Linked DNA regions of Homo sapiens: regions 1, 3, 4 and 5 are each linked to region 2. The links come from fine-mapping of genetic effects on gene expression. A gene starts in region 2. Each other region holds a variant in brackets. All regions are shown on one strand. Distances are between the middles of the regions.

Region 1 (4,620 bases), 50 kb before region 2:
CGTTATCAGTTTGATTTCCTTCTTTTGCATTCTATTGTAGGGTATTCTTTATCCCACCTTTTTAACATTTAATTTTATTTTTAAAATACGTGAAACATTTATGTAGTTAAAAAGTAAAAATGGGTTGAGAATAGTGGCTCACACCTGTAATCCCAGCACTTTGGGAGGCCGAGGTGGGAGAATTGCTTGAGCCCAGGAGTTTGAGACCAGCCTGGGCAACGTAGGAAGACCTCATTTCTACAAAAATAAATAAATAAATAAATAAATGAATAAATAAATAAATAAATAGCTGGGTACGGTGGCGTGTGCCACTGGGAGGCTGAAGCAGGAGGATTGCTTGAGCCCAGGAGGCTGAGGCTCCAGTGAGCCACTGCACTCCAACCTTGGTGAGAGAGCGAGACCCCGTCTCTGAAAAAATAAAAAAATAAAAAGTGACAATGATATGAGATATACAAGAGAAGCCTCACTGCCGTTCCTATCCCTTCTACCCCATTCCTTCCCACCTCCACGGTGAATGCCTTCCATTAGTGTCTGTTTAATACTGTATTTCTTTTCACAAAAATAACACATACACGTATTCATTTTCTCTTCTTTCCATATGAAAGATGGTATAATATATATCCTCCTTTGCATCTTACCCCGAACCTCATTATCCGTTCACACAGACCTCTCATGCTCACATTCATTCCTTCCCATTTCAGAACATTCTGCTGTCACATGGAACCTGTTCAGGGTTGGTTTTTGTCTAATCTATATTAATGCTAGTTATTTCAGAAGACCATGCAATACCCGTGAAAACTTCCCCTTCGCTCTCAGAAAGTTTGCACAAAAATCAACTCACAAAAGGCAGGTTAATTAGATAAAACACTATGAATTTATTTTAACGTGTCAAGCATGGGGAACTGTAGCAGAGTGATTATTCGATAACCCAGCGGGGTACATATGCTTATATACCCTTCTTCTTAGGGGAAAGGGAGATGGGGCAGTGTGGATGATTTTAGTTTAAGTGATTTTTAGAGAAATTCAATGGGCTTGAAGAACATACAATGGCCTGGGACAAAGTCTGTTGTGCCTGCAGAGTATACAACGGTTTGTGACAAAAGTCTGCCTAGCTGTGTTGATAGATGTCAGTCTTTCTTCCTGGATATGAGTTCAGTTCATGAAAATTTAGGAAGGGACCAGGAGTAATTGTTTTCTTCTTTAGTGAGTCTGGGCTTTAGGCAGATAAGGGAACTTCAGAGAACAACCTCATTCTGTGCTTTGAGAGAGACAGACTGAGACAGAGGCGGGGGTTGGGGGAGGTCAGAGAAATCTTGTGGCTTCTTCTTCAGTTCAGCATGTCACAGAGCCATATTTGGGGGTATTGGTTTCTGAGCCCCAGTCTCCATGATACCGGCTCCTTTTGAACTGGCATGACCTCTGGATTCTGAGAGTGTGAGAAGGCAATAGGGCGAAGGTCCAAATAAGGGTGAAGGACACAATGCAGGCTGTCCCCTCCTGTCTGGCCTCTAGTGTTCTTGTGTCTCTTGGGACGTGCGTGGCTTGAGAGATGGGTTTGCGGAGAGGGGCTTTGCCACTGGAGGATTATGAAGTGTTGCCAGGAGAGAAGTGGTTTCTGTGCCAAACACTTGCCTCACTCAAAGTGTAAACTTTTCAAAAATTAAGGCACAATTTAT[A/G]TAGCATAAAATTTGCCACTTTAACCATTTATTTTTCTTTCTTTCTTTCTTTCTTTCTTTTTTTTTTGAGACAGAGTCTTGCTCTGTCAGGCTGGAGTGCAGTGGCGCAATCTCGGCTCACTGTAACCTTGGCCTCCCGAGTTCAAGCGATTCTCCTGCCTCAACCTCCCGAGTAGCTTGGATTACAGGCATGCATCACCATGCCCAGGTAATTTTTGTATTGTTGGTAGAAGTGGGGTTTCGCCGTTTTGGCCAGGCTGGTCTTGAACTCCTGACCTCAGACGACCCACCTGCCTCGGCCTCCCAGAGTGCTGGGATTTCAGGCAGAGCCACCGCACCCGGCCCACTTTAACCATTTTAAAGTGTACATCCAGTGGCTTCAGTACGTTCACCGTCTCATTCAACCATAACATTTTTATCACCCCCAAAGGAAACCTCATACACATTAAAAAACCACGCCCCATTTCCCCCTCCCCCAGGCCCTGGCAACCACCAACCTACTTTCCGTCTCGAATGGATTTGCCTATCCTGGATATTTCATACATATGAAATCATACAATATGTGTCCTTTTGTGTCTGGCTTCTTTCACTTAGGTTCATCCAAGCTGCAGCATGCGTTGGTAGTGCCTTCTTTTTATGATGAAATATTCCGTTTTATGAATGTACTACAGTCTAGTTTATCCATTTACAGCTTATGGACAGCTGGGCTGTTTTTACATTTTGGTCACTGTTTTAACCTGTGTTTCTATTCTTCTGGGTACATACTAGAAATGGGACTTCTGGGTCATATGGAAACTCCATGTTTAAATTTTTTTTTTTTTTTGAGATAAAGTCTCACTCTGTCACCCAGGCTGGAGTGCAGTGGCATGACCTCAGCTCGCTGCAACCTCTGCCTCCCGGGTTCAAGCGATTCTTCTGCCTCAGCCTCCCGAGTAGCTGGGACTACAGGCATGTGCCACTACGCCAGGCTAATTTTTGTATTTTTAGTAGAGTCGGGGTTTCATAATGTTGGCCAGGCTGGTCTCGAACTCCTGACCTCGTGGTCTGCCCGCCTTGGCCTCCCAAAGTGCTGGGATTACAGGCGTGAGCCACTGCACCTGGCCCCATGTTTAAATTTTTGATGAACCAACAAATTGATTTCCACATCAGCTGCACCGTTTTACATTTTTCACAAGCAAAGTAGGAGGGTTCCGGTTTTCCCACATCCTTGCCAATGGTTATTTTCCATTTAAAAAATTATAGTCATCCTCGTGGGTGTGAGGCGGTCAACTGTTAATACCCTTTTTGACACAAGCTTCGGGTGTCAAAAGATATGCTCTAATGCTGCCCTTTGGCTTCACGAGGCTACTTAAAGCTTCCAATTTCCTGTAAATCATATTAGACTTTGTTATTGTTACATTAACTTGGTGATCCAAGGGACTCATGGCTGTAGGGGGGCAATCCTGTTATATTCTAAGTGCTGTGGTTTGAATGTGTCCCCCAAAGTTCATGTGTTGGAAACTTAATTGCCAGTGCAACAATGTTGAGAAGTGGCACGTTTAAGTGGTGATTAGGTCATGGGAACACAGCTCTCATGAGTGGATTCAGGCCATTATTGGGGTACTGGATTAGCTGTCACAGGAGTGACTTAGATATAAAATCAGGGAATTCTGCCCCTCTTTCCTTCCTCTCGCGTGTGTTCTCTCTCACGACGTGATGCCTTCCGCCATGGGATGGCCCTCACTAGATACCAGCACCACGCTCTTGGACTTCCCAGCTCCAGAACCATGAGCCAAATAAACGTCTGTGCCTTGTAAATTACCCAGTCTGTGGTATTTTGGTATAGCGGCAGGAGATGAACTAAGACACTATGCATGATGTTACCCTGAACATTTGCATGAAAACAGCTCTTTACATCACATAGCCACACTCAGAATGTGTTATGGGAATACAGAAAAACAGAGGTGGGGAGACGACATTAACTGTGGTGAGGGGGTGAAATAATCCTTGGGACCAGTGACCTTTAGGGGTCTTTTAAAGTGACTTGTGTGCTCAAAATAACTGGCCCGGGCCTGCGGAATCCGGGCATCCTGACAAAACCACATGAATGAGGAGAACGGCACTTTTCATGACCGGCCCCACCAGGGGAATTTTTCAGGCACGCATCTTACTCTGATGCTCAGGTCAGCTGGCTACCACTAGTGAGCCCAGGCCCAGAGGCTGGGGCACCCCAGTGAGTCAGAGCCCAGATCAGGGAGGGTGAGAATTACCACTTCCTGTCTATGAAAAACACTTAGATAAATGTCGGTTCCCACCATGGCTAAGAATCAAATAATATTCTTTCTTCGAGCCTCAACCTCAAGTGCCTGACAAACTCTTGAAAAACCCAAGGCACTGCCCAAAGTAGTTTACACGGGGAGGTCCAAGGTGGTTTCCCTATGGCTGGTTGATGATGTTAATTACGGTATTTTTCAGGATTGGCAGTCAAGCAGATGTTATTAACATTAACTAATTAATCCAGGTCTTATCGCATGTCACCTGACGCCAAGTAAAAGCACCAGAGAAGTTTGGAAGTGGAGAAATGCCACAGGGTGGATCAGGAAAGACAGGACAGAGGAGGGGCCATTTGTGTAAGACCTACCTGAAAGGATAGGTGGAAGGGGACAGTGGGAGGGAAGGGGAGGATTGAGGCAGGGAGGTAAAGGTGCCACCCCCACACAAGCATGGAGCAATGCCAAGTGTCCCAACATAGAATGGACTTCTGGATACATCCACTTTATCCCAAAATTATTATGACAATGTGATCAAAAGAGAATATTGTGGCCAAAATGTTAAAGTTTGACATTCCAGAACAGGAATAATTATATCTTGGCACCGTTCATGGTGACATTTCTTCCATAGCTACTGTACTGAATATTTACCAGGCGAAGAAGACACTTTCAACTGAAGTAAGTGGAGAAGTGAC
Region 2 (4,620 bases):
TGGGCCAAGTGGTCACCCTGCAAACCCCCTGGTGGGCAGGTTTCCCCCCTTGGAGGGAAAGGATGCCCCACGAGGGCAGGGCCAGGCCTCTGGCTGCTGAAGGAGCGAATTTCACCAGCGTCAGGGGAGGATGTGGTGAGCGCCCAGCTATCCTGGACCCGCTCTTTGATAAACACAGTCAGATTCACTTGTTCCTTGCCCTAGAAGAAGCTGGTTCCTGAAGCTCCGAAGCTGCTCCACTGGTGAAGTCGAAGGTGTGTGCCCCCAAACCCCCCAACTCGGGGCTCCCAGCCTGGAAGACAGGCAGGGACCTGCCCAGGCTCCCAAAACCTCCAAGTGATTCTGGATGGTGAGAGGGTGGGCAGGACTAGGGGGAGAAGTTTCAGGAGGCTTAAGGGAAATTTTCTGAGAAAGGTCTTCCTATTTATGACTCCCCAGGCCTGTGGCAAGGGGAGGCGAAAAGCTCGAGGGACAGGCCTGAGCCTTAGGACGGGGCCTTGGGCGAGTCCCTGCCTAGCCTTGCTCTTAGGAGCTCAAACCTTTGAGTCTCTCTGGAGACGTATCTTGGCAAGGGATCCCCCATATACCTTGGATATCCCCCAAGGTATCCAAGGGATACCCACAGGAGAGGGAGGTGGACAATGCCTTCTACTGCAGAGCAGCTCGTGTGGTCTCTAGCTTCTGTGTCAAAAGAGGGAGAAAATAAGAGCTCAGGTGTACACGGGCGGGCACAGAAACTCTGGAAGAAACTTAACAGTGGTGCCCTGGGGGGTAGGTGAGAGCTGGATTTAGGAGTGGGACAGATATTTTCCTATATGTGTTTACATATGTATTTGAATCATGTGCATGTTTTCAAAAATTTAAAAATTTAAAAATTTTAATATTGCAACAGCAATAAAGTAGAAATATTCATTTCTTAAAAGAAGGTAGCCAGGGCCGGGAGCGGTGGCTCACATCTGTAATCCTAACACTTTGGGAGGCCGAGGTGGGTGAATCACGAGGTCGGGAGTTCAAGACCAGCCTGACCAACATGGTGAAACCTTGTCTCTACTAAAAATACGAAAAAAGTTAGTCGGGCCTGGTGGCACAAGCCTGTAATCCCAGCTACTCAGGAGGCTGAGGCAGGAGAATCACTTGAACCCGGGAAGTGGAGGTTGCAGTGAGCCAAGATAGTGCCACTGCACTGCAGCCTGGGCAACAGAGCGAGACTCTGTATCAAAAAAAAAAAAAAAAAAAAAAAAAGAAGGTAGCCAGAATGGGAGTAGACAAGGCTCCCTTTGAGAAGGGGCTGAGCAGAGACACTGCTCCCTGCAGGCCACTCAGTGTGGATGCCTTCCTGGGGCCTCACATTGCAGGCTCTGGGTATGGAGGTGGGTGCCAGACACCGGTGTGTTTCCTCCCTGCTACTGTCCCAGCAGGCTCCTGGCCTCCTCCCGCACCCAGGGTGCGGGCCTGGCTGCCCCCCCTTGCCCAGTAGCCAGCCTTTGGCTTAGATTGGGCTGGTGGCCCAGTAGGGGGGCCTCGCTGGGGGCAGGACTGCCCTGTGCCCTGTCTTGGCACCCAGGCCAGCTTGGGGCTCCACGGCCTGGAGCAGGCAGTGGACTTGGCACTGCCCATCGCACAAGCCCAGGTGAGAGCTTAAAAGTTGTCATGGTTCCATCAACCTCTTCACCAGACAGTGGGAAGACCCAGCTCCAGAGGGCCAGGTGGTTCCCCTGCAGTGACTTGCAAGGTGTTATTTACAGAGGGGACCCATGTGTTGGATGAATCATCCAAAAAACCCAGGAGTAGTTTCTATTCCTGTAGACACCTGAAAGTCCCAGCACGCATAGCTTTTAAAAATTGCTTGTGTTTGGTCCTCCGACAGGGCCTCCCAGCACCTCCAGGGCATGAGAGCTGCATCTGCCGGGGTAGTTTCAGCCCAGACTTTCCTGATGGGCTGGAATCTATGAGGGCTCCCAGCTAAGAGCCACCCAGGCCCACGGGTGAGTCTCAGCCCTCCCAGCCCTGAAGGTGGGAGATGCCAGGGAAATCTCTGCTTGCAGGGCCCTAGGAAGCCACAGGCCCAAGGCTGCCCCAAATCTCTGTGCAGGCCTGGGACAGAGAAGCCGAGGCTGGGGAACCTGTGGGGCCCCACTGACCATTCTTGCAGACACACATGCAGTGGCTGAGGTCTCCTCCGACGCTAGGCACGCAAGTCCTAACCTGCAAGTACTAAATAGCACCACCTTCCTTTCCTTTCTGTGGGCAGCAGTTTCAAATCCTAAACCCCCAAAGTGCTGGAAGCCACGACGGCCCTTGGCAGGTGCTGAGAATGGCTGCCCCTGTGTGGTGCCCCTGTTAGGGTGTCTGGGGTGCGTAGGAGGCTTCCTCCTCCAGAGGCTTCCCAGGGCTTGACACATGCAGTGTGATTTTTGGCTTTTTGGTTTTTTGTTTTGTTTTTTGGAGCTGCGGGAGGGGGGCGTGCAGATCTTCCAAGAGGGCGGGAGAGTGTAGACCCTCCTCCTGGAAACTGCTCCCCATGTCCACACTCTAGTTCCACACAGCCTCTCTGTAGACCCCAGAGCAAGAGCCCCTAAGCCAGACAGGGTGACACTGGAGCGGCTCAAAGAGCATCTGGTCCCACCCCTTTATTTCACTCACAAGGAAGTCGAGACCCAGAGAGGGGAAGTGACTCTCCCCAGAACAGGCTGACAGCCAGGCCTGGAGGAGAAATGACATCTCTCAGCCCTCTCAGCTGCACCGGACCACCAACAGGTAACAGCCTCTGGGCCATTTAGAGAAACTAAGGCACGGAGCCTCCAACCTGACCTTGCTCTTGTGGACTGCAGGTAACTCTCCTAAGATCAGTGGGGCTTGTGTGGGCCTGGGCTTTGTGCACACCTGTCCCAACTCAGCGAGCAGTCCCAGGTGTCAGGGCAGCGGCAGCCTCCAGGCAGCCTCCGTGACAGCAGCAGCGGCAGGCAGACCTGGTTTGTCCCCGATTACGAGTGACATTTTTCTACGAACCCTCAACTTCCTCCTGATCTGACTCAGGGTTGCAGCATCATGTCGGGTCGGGAAACCTCCCCATAGGCAGCCTGGGAGCCTTCCCGGGGCATGTAGCTCACGTGCCACCGCCCTCCACCAAGCCCGCCGCCCATTCCCCAGAATCTTGTTGGGAAACCACCAAGCGCCCGAGATGACACACTCTCAGGGATCATCCTGCAGCCCTGAGCAAGTGCTTACTGGGGACCAGAAGGAGCCTGGGAGCCCAGGCTCACCCACTCACCAGCTGCGTAATTTCTCTAGCCTCCGTTTACCTCTCTGGGGCATGAGGCAATACACGGTTTCTTCCTCACGGGGCGCTCAAGGGCAGTAAATGATGGAGAGGAAAGCCCTGGTTGCTATCCTACATTATAGCTGCATTGTTCTCTAACCCTAGCCAAGTGTCTCTTGGAGAGGCTGGGCGGGAAGACACAGCAGCACTTAGAACCCTGAACATTCTAGATTCTTCCCTGAGAGTGAGAACACAAAGTCAGGACATGTCTGGCTGGCCTGGCTTCACCTGGGCTTTGTGCTGCCCGAGGCAGTGGGGATGAGAGGACAGGGCAGGGCAAAGTGCCGCCCACAGCTCTGTGGAAGGCAAGGTTTGCCTTTGGTTCTGAGCGGCTGTCCCAGCTGTAAAGGGAGCACCAGTCACTGTGGAGCTGCAGCAGACCTGGCCATTTGTTCCGTCATTTCTTCACCCCCTCTTTCATGCAATAAGACCTTCCCAACGACAAACTGTATGTGAGGCTCGGTGATAAAGGTGAAAGGGACATGGTCCTGGTCCTGGGGTTGCTGGAGGACAGCAGGGACACGCTCCCCCTGGGATACACAGAGGACTTTTCAAGGCACCCACTCAGGACTGCACTGGGAAAACCACATCAGATGATGTGGGTGAACCTGGGAAGTGGGCATTTCAAGGAAGAGGTGGGATTTTTAGCAGTGGAGGAGAGAGTCCAAGGAGAAAGAGGAGCATGAGCATGCAAAGAAGTGAGGAGGGGGCTTGGCAACTCCTGGATCCCAGATGCTCTTGCTTGTGATGCTGATGGGGGCCAGGGTGAGCGAGGAGGAGAGACTCAGAACATGAGTTCCAGCTGGTCCCTCACGGCCTTTTTGACCTTGGGTAGAATCTTTAACATCTCTAAGCCTTACTGTCCTTATCTGTAAAATGGGCATAATTAGGGCAATCTCCTAGGAGTGTCCTGAGTTCCCATCGTAGATCACTGAGCACACTGCTGGCCACCTTTCACGTCCCCAAGCCGGCCCCTCCCCTCTCCCAGCCCCACTCCAACCCCCCAGCCCAAGCTCCAGCAACATTCAGGCATTGGGGAGATTGTGGTCATGTGCTCTGTCCCCTCTGTGTCCTGTTCCTTCTTCTATCGTGGCCCCCAGAAGCCCAGCTCAGGCACAGGCGGATGACTTTATTCACACTATGGTGTTACTGGTGGATACGCTGTGTATTCTAACTGCGGCATTTTTGGGGGAGTATTCCAGGGCTCCTCAAATCCATCCCTGCGGCTGTGCCAATGCTGCTTTTTTAGGCTCTGGCCCTGCCATCTCTGAGGTGGCTCACGCTGCAATGCTCTGTGCAGA
Region 3 (4,620 bases), 23 kb before region 2:
ATGGAGCTTCCAGGAACCTCCGTGTGCTCAGCTCTCCGGAAGCTCTCTGAACCCTGTCCTCTTGGGGTTTTTATGGAAGCTTCATGATGTCAGCGTTCCTTCTCTCAGGGCATAGGACAGAACCCTCTCTGGGGAGAGTCTTAAGACCCACAATCAGAAAGGCGGGGGAAGATACGAGTCCTGCCTTGCGGCAGGTGAAAGGAGAGCTGGAGAAGGCCAGAGAGATTCTGTTTCCTGAGGCCTAACACAGCCACTGTCATAACACGAGACTGTAACAGGGACTATGGGGGTTCCGAGCCAGAAACTGTGGACAAAAGCCAACACGTGTGTACTTATCATAACACCACACATGTCACTTCTTGTGAATGATATTAGTAATAATGAAAAACCTATTTCCAGTGTCGCGAATCTCTATTTAGATGTGAGAAAAAATGTTTGACTTATGTGAAGCAGAGAAGGTTTCCTTATCTGTGCAGCTCTCGTTATGAGGTCTGAGGCTGGAGTGCGGGAAAGAAGAGCAAAACGAGAAAAACAAAAAAGAGGGGAAAGAGAAGATGAGAAGAAAATAAAAGTGGCAAGAAGAGATAAAAAGACAAAAAAGCCAATTGCTCTAATTGCTCTGCGTCTTGTCCTGGGTGCCATGCCTGGGAGACAGGCAGGTAGGCGATGGGCTGAACAAGGTCTGTCCAGCACACTCTGCATTCTGCCACATCATGTGCAGGCCAGTGGTTCCCAGACAATGTGGCTTCAGGACCCCTTTACACTCTTAAAAAGTGTTAAGGATCTCAAAAAGCTCTTATCTATGTAGATATCTATCAGTGTTTCCTGTGTTAGAAATTAAAACAAAGAAACTGGCTGGGCGTGATGGCTCACGCCTGTAATCCCAGCACTTGGGGAGGCCGAGAGGGTGGATCACGATGTCAGGCGTTCAGCCTGGCCAGCATGGTGAAACCCCGTCTCTACTAAAAATACAGAAAAATTAGCCAGGCGTGGTGGTGGTTGCCTGTAATCCCAGCTATTTGGGAGGCTGAGGCAGAGAATTGCTTGAACCCGGGAGGCGGAGGTTGTAGTGAGCCGAGATTGTGCCACTGTACTCCAGCCTGGGTGACAGAGCGAGACTCTTGTCTCAAAAAAAAAAAATAAATTTAGTGAGAAGAGAAGCATTATTTTTACATTTCCACAGATCTCTGTGATGCTGGGCTTTATGAAAGATGGTTGGCCTCTCCTATCTCTATTCAGTCTATTGTGGTATCACACAGCATACAGCCTCCAGAAAACTCCACTGTACACTCACTAAAGGAAGACAGTGGAAAAGGAAATACTAACAACATTTCAGTATTATTATGAAAATAGTTTTGACCTTGTGGATCCCCAGAAAGTGTCCCAAGACCACCCTTCCCCACAGAGTGCCTGAGCCACACTTTGAGAAGTGCTGATCTAGGCCGGGGAATTGATGGAATCCACCCCATTCTTCCCAGGAAGGCAATCTTACAATAGCTATCAAGAACTTTAAAAGCAGGATGGGCGCGGTGGCTCACGCCTGTGATCTCAGCACATTGGGAGGCCAACGCGGGCAGATCGCAAGTTCAGGAGTTCGAAACCAGCCTGGTCAACATGGTGAAACCCCGTCTCTACTAAAAATACAAAAATTATCTGGGTGTGGTGGCAGGTGCCTGTAATCCCAGCTACTCGAGAGGCTGAGGCAGGAGAATCGCTTTAACCCGGGAGACAGACGTTGCAGTGAGCTGAGATTGCGCCATTGCACTCCAGCCTGGGTGGAAGAGTGAAACTCCGTCTCAAAGAAAACAAACAAACAAACAAACAAAAAAAGAGCCATAAAAGCATTAGGGCCTGTTGATGTAGTGATTCCTCTTTGGGGACTATATTTTATATTTATTAATTTTATTTTTTGAGACAGGGTCTCAGTCTGTTGCCAAGGCTGGAGTGCGGTGGCACCATCCCAGCTCACTGCAGCCTTGACCCCCCTGGCTCAGATTATCCTCCCACCTCAGCCTCCCGAGGAGTTGGGATTACAGGCGCACGCCACCAAACCGGACTATTTTTTGTAAAGATAGGGTCTCCCAATGTTTCCCAGGCTAGTCTCAAACTCCTGAGCTCAAGCAATCCTCCTGCCCCTGCCTCCCAAAGTGCTGGGATTACAGGCGTGAGCCACCTCGCCCAACCCTCAGGGAATATATTTTAAAACAATAATTCCCAAAGGAAGGAAAAACTTCCTAAATGACCTATAATTGGGGAATGGTTAAATAAATGCTGGCATATACATTTAATAGAATATTATGTGGTTTAAAAGGATAATGATGAAGACTCTGCACTGGCATGGAAGGAATATCTACAGCTCTAAGTGAAAAAATCCGAATTATATAACTGACTCTTCACCATGCCTGCCAATGTCATGCTGGCTCTGCCTGGAAACAAAGCCTCAAAGGCAACGAGAGAAAGTAGGTTCTATTCCATATATAGGGTAGGGACTATGGGAGAATTTTTCCTTCTCTTTTTGGTTTATTTTGATTTATTTATTACTATTATTATTATTTTGCAATTAGTGAAAACAAAAATCAGGACTGTTGAATCTGTCTTGCTTCCCCAGGTCAGTGCGGTTGGGAGGTGTGTGGAGAGCAGCCACCCAGACCCAGAGGTC[A/G]GGAGATGGGGAGGGAGGAAGGAGTGGGGGAGGCTCTGAGTGGGGAAGTCAGGCCTGGAGGGGCTGATAGCTCAGCTGGTTCTAAGTTCCCTTTCAGTGCTGACTGAGAAAGCTCTCCTAAGCAGCTGTTGTCAGAGGCCTGCGGGAGACACAGACCAAGCATAGGGGCTGTGCTTTGCCTCACCAAGGGAGGAAGCTGTGGGGGCGGCCAGGGGGTGGGCGGCGGTGGCAACTGCAGCACCCAAGACCTCTTGGAGAGAACTGAAGTCAGTGGCCACACCCATGTCACAAAGGAGCCGGGCGGGCACTGCAGGCTTCATCCACTGATGGGGAGCTTGACAGACACCAAAGCCACCGTGGCCTGGTGAGGCGGGATGCCGAGTTTCTGCTTAGGTAGGACAGGGCCAGATTTGTATTTTAGGAAGCCTCGCTGTAGCTGGGTGCAGGCTATGTTAGGAGTTGGAGGGGGGGCACCAGCTGAAGTTGAACACAATGGTACTTTAAAAAATAGCACTAAAAGGCTGGATGTGGTGGTCGACACTTGTAATCCCAGCACTCTGGGAGGCTGAGGTGAGAAGATTGCTTGAGCCCAGGAGTTCGAGACCATCCTGGGCAATATAGTAAGACCTAGTCTCTACAAAAGTTAAAAATTAGCCTGGCATGGTGGTGTGCCCCTGTGGTCCCAGCTACGTGGGAGGCTGAGGCACGAGGATTGCTTGAGCCTGGGATGTCGAGGCTGCAGTAAGCTATGATTGGGCTACTGCACTCTAGCCTGAGAGACAGAGTGAGACCCTGTCTCAAAAAAAAAAAAAAAAAAGGTCATAAAGTTGACCAACAGACACTCCCTACTGGAGTGGAGAGTATGGGATGGGCTTTATTCCCCTGAGCTAAAAATGTAACCAGGGTCCCAATTATACCTTGCAACTTAGATGCAATCTTCTAGGATTGCAAATGTGCTCTTTCATCGTGCTCTTGCCCTTTGCATTGGAGCCCAGTTGGCTGGTGCACGTCCAAGGTGCAGCTGGCAGGCTCCAGCTTTGCTGCTGCAGCACACCTAACCAACTTCAGTAAGATCGCCCCATAACCAACAAAACTCTGGTGGTGCTGACCAAGGGGAGACTGATACACAAACTGGGTTGTTGGCAGCCAGGCAGGTTCCCACACCCATAGTGGAAAGGAGCGATTTGTCAGCTAATGGCTCTTTCTGGCTTGGGCATGATGAAGGAATGGAAGGCGTGGGTCTGTGGTGTGGCCAATGTGACAGGGCCGTCAGAAAGTTGAATACACTGAAGTCAAACATAGGAAATGAGCAATAGGGTTAGTTCAGCATGAACCTATGCCAATTCTTATTTACTTTTTGGGGTTCACTAAAATATGATGTGATTAAGATGTTCTGCTCTCTAGTTTGGTGTGTGTCTCAAAGAACCTCAGTGGAGTCCTAAAGAACCACATGAGCACCCCCAGCCACAGCTGCCTTGCCCTGGCCCCTGCCCCAGTTAGGCCCTGGAGGTCCCTAAAAGGTCTGATGGGCTGGGCCTGCTTTCTTCCAGCTCTGCCAGAGTGGAAACTTGGCCCCAGCTATGGCCTGGTCCAGGTGTGGGCTGCAGTGGGAACTTGTCCCATGCTACTGGGACACCCTGCTTCCACAACCATCAGCTTCTGCCAGCGTCATTTCACTGATCTCTAGTTCATTGATCTCTACCCTCCACCACTTACACTGACCTCGTGGCATCTTGGCCTAATACTACAGGGTGCATCTCTTCTGATGAGGACACTTTTTTCTCCACACTCTCCGGTCCTCAGCTTTGTTAAGGTACACGTGACAAAAATTGGATATGTGAATGATGAACAGTGTGAAATTTTGATATATGTATACACTGGGAAATGATTAAATCAAGCTAATGAACACATCCATCGATCACACAGTTATCTTTTTTGTGTGTGTGTGGTGAGAACATTTC
Region 4 (4,620 bases), 39 kb before region 2:
TGTATTTCTTTTTTTGTGAACCGTCTGTCTGTTCATGTCCTCCTTGCCCCCTTTCTATTGGGTTGTTAGCATTTTCTCACTGATTTGCTTGTATATAAGTGGTGAAAAGTTTTTTTTTTTTCTTTCAGTTTGGCATTTATCTTTTGACTGCTTATGGTGGCTTTACAGAAAGACTTTATTTTTGGCCAGGCACAGTTGCTCATGCCTGTAATCCCAGCACTTTGGGAGGCCGAGGCAGGCAGATCACCTGAGGTCAGGAGTTTGAGAACAGCCTGGCCAACATGGTGAAACCCCGTCTCTACTAAAAATACAAAAATTAGCTGGGCGTGGTGGCATATGCCTGTAATCTCAGCTACTTGGGGGGCTGAGGCAGGAGAATGGCTTGAACCCAAGAGGCAGAGGTTGCAGTGAGCCAAGACACACCATTGCACTCCAGCTTGGGCGACAAGAGGGAGACTCCACCTCAAAAAAGAGAAGAAAAAAAGAAAAAAAAAAGCTCATAGAATAAGGGTACAAAGAAAATATTTTGTGCAGCTCTATATGTTGGTGTTTTATGCTAAGTATTATTATAAAAAAGTCCAAATGTTTTTAAAAATTGAAAAGTTTGTAAAATAAAAAAAGTACAGTAAGCTAAGGTTATGTTATTCTTGAGGAAAGAACAAATTTTTCATAAACGTGGTGTAGCCTAAATGTACAGTGTTTACAAAGTCTACAGCAGTGGTCGGTAATGTCCCAGGCCTTACCGTTCACTCACCAACCACTCACTGACTCACCCAGAGCAACCTCCAGTCCTGCAAGCTCCATTCATGGTAAGCGCCTTACACAGGTGTACCATATTTTTATTTTTCCTACCATATTTTGAACGATATTTTTCTATGTTTAGATACACCATTGTGTTGCGATTGCCTACAGTATTCAGTACAGAAACATGCTGCACAGGCTTGTGGCCTAGGAGCAACAGGCTAACCCATATAGCCCAGGTGTGCAGTAGGCTATGCCATGTAGGCTAACACGTATAGCCCAGGTGTGCAGTAGGCTATGCCATTGTAGGAACCCTACAATGTTCACACAATGAAACTGCCTTACAATGCAGTGTATTAGCTGGGAATTCCAGTATGATATAGAAAGGACTGGTGAGAGAGAACATCCTTGACTTGTTCATGATTTTACGGTAAAACATCTAGTTTTACACCATTAAGTCTAACGTTAAATGTAGGGGTTTTTTGTAGCTGTTCCTCATCAGGTTGAGGGAGTTCTTCTCTATTCCTAGTTTGCTGAAGATTTTGGGTTGTATTTTTATCATGAATGGGTATTGAATTTTGTCAGATGCTTTTTCTCCATTTATTGATGTGATCATATGATTTTTCTTTTTGAGCCTGTTGATGTGATGAATTATGTAAATTGATTTAAGAATGTGAGTCAGATTTGCATACTTGAAATAAATCTCAGTGTTGGACAAATCTGACATTATTGAAAGATTTGTTACCATTTCATTGAGGATTTTTGCATCTTCAATTCTTTTAAACATGTTTATGTTCCATATATGGCACAGAATGTGGTCTATTGTGGTAAATATTTCTGGTAAGCATGAGAAGAATGTGTATTCTACTGTTGTTGGATGAATTTGTTTATAAATGTCTATTATGTCCTGTTGATTGATGCTGCTGTTCAGTTCAGCTATATCCTTATTGGATATGTCAGCTACTGATCTCTTATGTTGAGGTATCCAACTATAAGAATGGATATTTTAATTTGCCTTGCAATTCTACTAGTTTTTGCCTTACATATTTTGACATTGTTAGGTACATATATGTTAAGAATTATTCTATTTTCTTGGGGAATTGATCCCTTTATCACTATGTAATGTTCCTCTTTCTCCCTTATAATTTTCCTTGTTCTGAAGTCTGCTTTATCTGCAATTAATACAGTTGCCCCACCTTTCTTTGATTAGAGTTTGTATGGTAC[G/A]ATGCATCCCATTACTTCTTTCATTTATTTACTTTTTAAAAGTTAGACATTCTTTTTGTGGTGAAATATAAATAACGTAAAAATTACCATCTTAACTATTTTTAAGTGTATAGTTTAGTGGCAGTCATATTGTTGTGCATCCATCACCACCACCCACGATGAGTTCATCTGGGAGACCGATCCATACTAGAGTGCCTCAGAACTCTTTCACCTGGGAAAACTGAAATTCTATAGCCATGAAACAAAAACTAATTATACTTTTCATCTCTGTGAATTTGACTACTCTAGGACATTGGAGAAGTGAAATCATACAGTATTTGTCTTTGTGTGACTGGTGTGATAACAAAACTATCACAAAAGGCTCTGTAAAAACCAAAACCTTGCACAAAAGCCATTGTAACCTTACACAAAAAAATACTTCCGCAAGGAAATCTGCCCAGCAAAGCTAAATGTTCAACCTTGGACAGGCATCACCTTTGTTACTGACTCTTGTAGCCAAGGATAATCATTTCAAAACAATCATATTGAGAGGTGACAGCGTGCTGGCAGCCCTCGCTCGCTCTCGGCGCCTCCTTGGCCTCTGCGCCCACTCTGGCCGCGCTTGAGGAGCCCTTCGGCCTCCCGCTGCACTGTGTGGGAGCCCCTCTTTGGGCTGGCTGAGGCCAGAGCCGGCTCCCTCTGCTTGCGGGGAGGTGTGGAGGGAGAGGCGCGGAAGGAGAGACGCGGGTGGGAACCGGGGCTGCACGGGGTGCTGGCGGACCAGCGCGAGTTCCGGGTGGGTGTGGGCTTGGCAGCCCTGCAGTAGGAGCGGCCGGCCGCCACCACCAGTCCTGGGCAGTGACGAGCTTAGCACCTGGGCCAGTAGCCACAGAGAGTGCGCTGGGTCCCCCAGCAGTGCCGGCCCGCCCACGTTGCACTCGAATTCTCGCGGGTCCTCAGCTGCCTCCCCGCAGGGCAGGACTCAGGACCTGCAGCCTGCCATGCCCGAGCCTCCCCACCTCCGTGGGCTCCTGCTCCGCCCGAGCCTCCGTGGCTCTGGGTCCCATCACCGCCCAAGGTGCTGAGGAGTGCGGGTGCACGGTGGGACTGGCGGGCAACTCCGCCTGTGGCCTTGATGCAGGATCCACTAGGTGAAGCCAGCTGGGCTCCTGGGTTTAGTGGGGACTTGGAGAACCTTTATGTCTAGCTAAGGGATTGTAAATACACCAATCAGCACTCTGTATCTAGCTCAAGGTTTGTAAACACACCAATCAGCACCCTGTGTCTAGCTCAGGGTTTGTAAATGCACCAATCAGCACTCTGTATCTAGCTAATCTAGTGGGGACATTTATGTCCAGCTAAGGGATTGTAAATACACCAATCAGCACTCTGTGTCTAGCTCAAGGTTTGTAAACATACCAATCAGCACCCTGTGTCTAGCTCAAGGTTTGTAAATGCACCAAGCAGTGCTCTATGTCTAGCTAATCTAGTGGGGACTTGGAGAATTTTTCTGTCTAGCTCAGGCATTGTAAATGCACCAATCAGCATGCTGTCAAAACGGACCAATCAGCTCTCTGTAAAACAGACCAATCAGCTCTCTGTAAAATGGACCTATCAGCAGGATGTGGGTGGGGCCAGATAATGGAATAAAAGAAGGCTGCCCAAGCCAGCAGTGGTAATCCGCTGGGGTCTTTGTTTCCACTGTGGTAACTTTGTTCTTTCACTCTTTGCAGTAAATCTTGTTGCTGCTCAGTCATTGGGTCTGCACTGCCTTTATGAGCTGTAACACTCACTGTGAGAGTCTGTAGTTTCACTCCCGAGGCCAGTGAGACCCTGAACCCACCAGAAGGAAGAAACTCCAAACACGTCCGAACATCAGAAGGAAGGAACAAACTCCGGACATGCCTCACTGCAAGGGTCACCGGCTTCATTCTTGAAGTCAGTGAGACCAAGAACCCACCAATTCTGGACACAATATAATCCTCATTCTTCCTCCTTGAATATGCAGTTTACTGTGGCACACACATTCCCACTGCAATGCTCTATTCCTGAATAAATATCTTTTTCTTTTAGAGAGCCTTTCTCTGTTATTTAGGTTGACAGTTTTTAACTGTCTTTTAGTATATCTTTGAAATTTTGGTTGAAAGCTGGACATGATGTATATGATAGTAGGACCTGAAGTAAATCGGCCTTATTGTGTGAGGTTTTATGTTAATCTGACTAGTAGCTGGGCCGTGTTTAATGTTTCCTATAGCTGTAGGTGCCAGAAACTTTAGTTTCCTCTAGTTTCAGGTATTTTTTTTTCTCTTCTGTTTTGACTTTCCCTGAGAACTCTTATTATTTTTTTTGAGATGGAGTTTTGCTCTTGTTGCGCAGGCTGGAGGGCAGTGGCGCCATCTTGGCTCACTGCAACTTCTGCCTCCCAGGGTCAAGCAGTTCTCCTGCTTTTCCTGAGTAGCTGGGATTACAGGTCCCCACCAACATATCCAGCTATTGTATTTTTAGTAGAGACAGGGTTTCACCATGTTGGACAGGCTGGTCTTGAATGCCTGACCTCAAGTGATCACCCACCTCAGCTTCCCAAAGTGCTGGGATTACAGGTGTCAGCCATTGTGCCCAGCCAAGAACTCTTAAATAACGTAAATATCTTAAATAACTCTTTCCGTTATAGTCTAC
Region 5 (4,620 bases), 32 kb before region 2:
GAAGGATGAAGGGTTGTTTAGCAATCAACAAAAATCAAGAATTACTGTTGCTCTGATTGTTTTCTGTGCATACAAAAAAAAAAATAATGCAGTGCTTTAGGAATGTGGCTGGGCAGGAACATGACTTTCGAAGTCAAATGCATCTGAGTTCAAAGGTCTGTCACTCACTGGACGTCCTTGGGCAAGCTGCTTCTCTGCGCTTCAATTTCCTCATCTGAAAAATGGGCCTGCTATCACCTACCTCATAGGATTGCTGGGAATAACTAAATGATTTTATGTATGTAAAGCAACTTTTTTTTTTTTGAGACAGGGTTTCACTCTGTTGCCCAGGCTGGAGTGCAGTGGCGCAATCACAGCTCACTGCAGCCTTGACCTCCCTGGGCTCAGGTGATCCTCTTGTCTCAGCCTCCTGAGTAGCTGGGACTATAGGCATGCACCACTACACCCAGCTAATTTTTAAATTTTTCTTCTAAAGACAGGGTTTCACCATGTTGCCCAGGCTGGTCTCCAACTCCTGGGCTTAAGTGATCTGCCCACCTTGGCCTCCCAAAGTGCTGGGATTACAGGCGTGAGCTAGGTGCCTGGCCTGTTGGAAGCCCTTAAACCACAACACTGGCAACAAAGTATTCGATAAATGGAGCAGCTGGAGGAGAAAAAGTGTGAGGAGGAGGAAGAAAAGTAGGAACCAAAGCTATGCTGATTTCCATTTTTGGAACTGCTGTGACCTCACACAGCACACTGTACTTCTCATTGTATTTCCAGTGGGAGAGTTCCTGCTGCTTGAAATGTGATTTATGACAGTTATAAACCAAGATTTCAGCTTGTCTTCATGGAAGAATGCCGGCTAATAAAGATAGAAAGAATGATAGAAATAGATTATCACTATTTTGTAAAGACCCTCGTTATAACTGATTCAGAAAATATGGTCAATGGGTGCTAAGGCCATAGGGTGAGAGGTCCTTGGGTATGGGATATTTACACATTACCAAACTACCATTTTGCAGATTATGTGTTAATTACAGTGGAGAGATCTTTTGGACATCACCTTAACTAAATGATCGAAATTAGGTTTATAAAATAAAAGACAAACATTGCATGTTCTCACTTACTTGTAGGATCTAAAAATGGAAACAATCGAACTCATGGAGGTAGACAGTTAGGATGGTTACCAGAGTGTGGGAAGGGGAGTGGTGGTGGTTGCAGGGGTGGGGGCACTGTCAGAGGGAGGTAGGAATGGTTAATGGGTACAACAAATAGAAAGAATGAATAAGACCTACTTTTGATAGCACAACAGGGTGACTATAGTCAATAATAACTGAAATGAACATTTAACAATAACTAAAAGAGTATAATTGGAATGTTTGTAACACAGAGGATAAATGCTTGAGGGGGATGGATACCCCATTCTCCATGATTTTACAATTGCATGTCTGTATCAAAACATCTCATATATCCCATAAATATATACACCTACATTGTACCCATAAACATTTAAAAAAATTTTTTAAAGTTAGGTTTACAAATAATGAGACTAACATTATATGCCTGCTGATGTGATAACAGTAGTACTCTCTTATGTGTGGTTTCACTATCCTGAGTTTTAGCCACAGCCTGAAAATGTTAAATTTAAAACTCCACAAATAATTCAAAAATTTTCTTCCTTTCTTTCTTTATTTATTACAACTTAAACTTTATTTACTTGATTGAGAGCTTATTGTACATAAAATGTTTTATGTGGTTGAGCTTAGCTTTGTTCACACTGACTTCAGGGAGTCTGATTTCTATGCTCAAGATTGTTCAATTGCTGCTGTTGCCCTTGGTTTCTTTTCTTTCAGGATCAAGATGGGTACTTTCACATAATATCTTATTTTTAATTCCTTCTCTGGCAATTCTTTCCTGGATTCTTTGCTTTGCATAATTATACCTACAATGAAACCAGCATCCCAAAGTCACCAAGATAAATCCTCCTACTCCAACATCACATGATTTTCTAATTCTACTAGTTAACAAAAAAAAAGTCCAAAGCCAGCCACAACAGATCCTAATGAACCATACAATATTGAATCCCGGGCACAGGGAATATTTTCAACACCTGAAATGCCTAGGAGCTTAAAGAGCTTCCCCTTCGCGGGCTCGCCGGGCTCCGGAGC[G/A]GCGGCCACGGGGACGACTCCCCGCCTCCACCCGCCCAGCACCGCCGGCGCCGCGGGAGAAGGAAGACCGGCCAGCCGCGCCCCTCCCCGTCCCGCCCAAATTCACAAGTTTTAAATCACGCGCTGTTCTGAGCAGCGCAGTGAAATCTCTCGCTGTCCCGCTCCATCCTGCTCAGGAGGTGAATCATCCCTCTGTCCCGCGTATCCATGCTGGAGACACCACCGGCCGTCAGTGATCGACTGTCATGGTATCGCAGTGCCGGTGTTCAAGGAACCCTTATTTTACTAAATAATGTCCCCAAAGCACAAGCGTAGTGATGCCAGCAATTCGGATATGCCAAAGAGAAGACCTCAAGTGCTTCCTTTAAGCGAAAAGGCAAAAGTTCTCAAGAAACAAAATCATTTGCTGAGATTGCCAAAAATCTATGGTCAGAATAAAATTTCTAATTCTGAAATTGTAAAGAAAGAAAAAGAATGTGTGCTGGTTTTGCTGTTGTACCTCAGACTGCAAAAGTGATGACCACAGTGCGTGATAAGTGCTTAGTTAAGACGAAAAAGGCATTACATTCGTGGGTGGAAGACCTGAACAGAAACTACTTCTGATTGGCGGCAGTCAGGCTTGGTACTCTCTGCAGTTTCAGGCATCCACAGGGGGATCTTAGAACTGAAAAAAAAAAAAAGGTTAATCTGAATTACATCATGAGGCAGTAATTAGGCAAATAGAGATTCCAGAATAGTCCGTTAGGCTCTCCAAGAATGTCAACGTCATGAAAGACGAAAAAAGGTAGGGAGACAGCTCTAGATGAAAAGGTATTAAACAGTCAAATACAACACATGAACCCTGATTAAATGCAAGATAAAGATTTTTTTAAAATACAGATTATGAGATAATATTATTGTATCCATGTTAAATGTTAAATTTCTTCATTGTGATCATGGTATTGGGTTATGTAAGGAATGTTCTTCTTTTAGGAGCTGCAGGTGAAGTATTTAGGGGTGAAGTGAGCATATGTCTGCAACTTACTCCAAACGCTTCAGCAAAAATGTATATATATTTAGTGAAGGGTAATTGGGTGTTTGTTTAACTGATTTTCAACTTTTCTGCAAGTTTGATATTTAAAAAAATTAAAAGATTGCCAGGAGTGGTGGCTCATGCCTATAATCCCAACACTTTGGGAGGCTGGAGGCGGGTGGATCACTTGAGGTCAGGAGTTTGAGACCAGCCTGGCCAACATGGTGAAACTGCCAACTCTACTAAAAATACAAAAAATTAGCTGGGTGTGGTGGTGCATGTCTGTAGTCCCAGGTACTCGGGAGGCTGGGGCAGGAAAATTGCTTGAACCCAGGAGGCAGAGGTCGCAGTGAGCTGAGATTTCACCACTGCACTCCAGCCTGGGCAACAGAGTGAGACTCTATCTCAAATAAATAAATAAATAAATAAATAAAGTAAATAAAATAAATTTGGGAATAAAATCCTGCTTTCAGGTAAATGTTAGAACAAGACCTCCCACTGTCCTAGCTATTGGGATTCTCCTAAGGAGAATTAGGAATCCTCTAGTTTAAAGACACTGGTGTAGTTGGGCATGGTGGCTCATGCCTATAATCTCAGCACTTTGGGAGGCTGAGGAGGGAGGATCACTTGAGGCCAGGAGCTTGAGACCAACCTGGGCAATATAGTGAGACCCTGACTCTACAAAACAATTTAAAATTAGCCAGATGTGGTGGCACACGCCTGTAGTCCCAGCTACTCAGGGGACTGAGGTGGGAGGATTGCTTGAGCCCGGGAGGTCAAGGCTGCAGTGAGCCGTGATCACACCACTGCAGGCACACTCCAGCCTGGGCAATGGAATGAGACCCCGTCTCAAACAAAACAAAACAAAACAAAACAAAAAGACACTGGCATAATCTTTTCTGGCTGTGTTTTCCCATATGAGTCTCCTTTATGGTCTACCATTTAAGTGTAATCCTTCTCTACATTTGAATTGTATTTGATTTGCTTTACAATTCTAAGAAGTTTCCATTGAGCTGATGTTTAATAGGCCCTTGAGTAGTGATACTGCTAATGTGCTACCAGATTTAGTCACTGGAACTGTCTTAACAGGCTGGAGAGAATGTAAGGTGAGAAAAGCCTGTGTCTGTGTTGTGGGAATTCTGTACAGTTATGTTAAGGTGAGCAAGGAATCTGTGTGAAAGCCACTTTCTTTCCTGAGAGCATCTGATGCACTGTCACGTGTGCCCATAACAAGGACTCAGATATGCTGTCACATCAAGGAGACATGGAAAATAGGAAGTCAAGACCTTTCTACTGGGTAAAAATGAGGAGAAATTTCCTTAAGGAAATAACACAAAATAATTAGACAGCTAACAACATTTGTTGTTTGTATTATCTGACAAAATTTCAACAGTGGATTGTGAATTATTCTTTTCTTTGCCACTCAAAGTAGATGGAGATCATAATTTCACAGAAATG

Which allele goes with the higher level. Positions count from the first base shown, and alleles are read on the strand shown. Sizes are in standard deviations (SD) of each study's normalised expression. Not every link is listed here.
In carriers of allele G in region 4, the expression in testis of the gene that starts at base 2,683 in region 2 tends to be higher than with A alone (small effect, 0.29 SD a copy in GTEx).

What was found. PIP is the estimated chance that this variant, and not a neighbour inherited with it, causes the effect. A credible set is the group of variants that fine-mapping cannot tell apart.
Region 1: its variant is the best candidate, but not a certain one, in a credible set for the expression of GPR55 in whole blood (INTERVAL, PIP 0.84).
Region 3: its variant is the best candidate, but not a certain one, in a credible set for the expression of GPR55 in whole blood (TOPMed, PIP 0.70).
Region 4: its variant is the best candidate, but not a certain one, in a credible set for the expression of GPR55 in testis (GTEx, PIP 0.62).
Region 5: its variant is the best candidate, but not a certain one, in a credible set for the expression of GPR55 in whole blood (TOPMed, PIP 0.58).

Annotation. Positions count from the first base shown.
Region 1 is chr2:230,973,644-230,978,263 of GRCh38, reverse strand. No RefSeq gene overlaps it. Among named protein-coding and RNA genes, the nearest start is that of SPATA3-AS1, 20 kb to the left of the region's middle. RefSeq lists enhancers at 1,146-1,195, 2,300-2,419, 3,834-3,973, 4,094-4,143. The variant A/G (reference allele first, on the strand shown) is at 1,677.
Region 2 is chr2:230,923,305-230,927,924 of GRCh38, reverse strand. It overlaps GPR55 (G protein-coupled receptor 55), which reads left to right and starts at 2,683. Exons shown (of 2, transcript NM_005683.4): 1 at 2,683-2,757. RefSeq lists a silencer at 1,247-1,426 and enhancers at 1,647-1,876, 2,697-2,746, 2,867-2,986, 2,550-3,338.
Region 3 is chr2:230,946,360-230,950,979 of GRCh38, reverse strand. It overlaps a transcript of GPR55 not described here. Among named protein-coding and RNA genes, the nearest start is that of GPR55, 23 kb to the right of the region's middle. RefSeq lists enhancers at 162-221, 352-401, 592-661, 872-921, 4,219-4,378. The variant A/G (reference allele first, on the strand shown) is at 2,660.
Region 4 is chr2:230,962,678-230,967,297 of GRCh38, reverse strand. No RefSeq gene overlaps it. Among named protein-coding and RNA genes, the nearest start is that of SPATA3-AS1, 31 kb to the left of the region's middle. The variant G/A (reference allele first, on the strand shown) is at 1,966.
Region 5 is chr2:230,955,132-230,959,751 of GRCh38, reverse strand. It overlaps a transcript of GPR55 not described here and the pseudogene COX20P2. Among named protein-coding and RNA genes, the nearest start is that of GPR55, 32 kb to the right of the region's middle. RefSeq lists a silencer at 2,085-2,184. The variant G/A (reference allele first, on the strand shown) is at 2,151.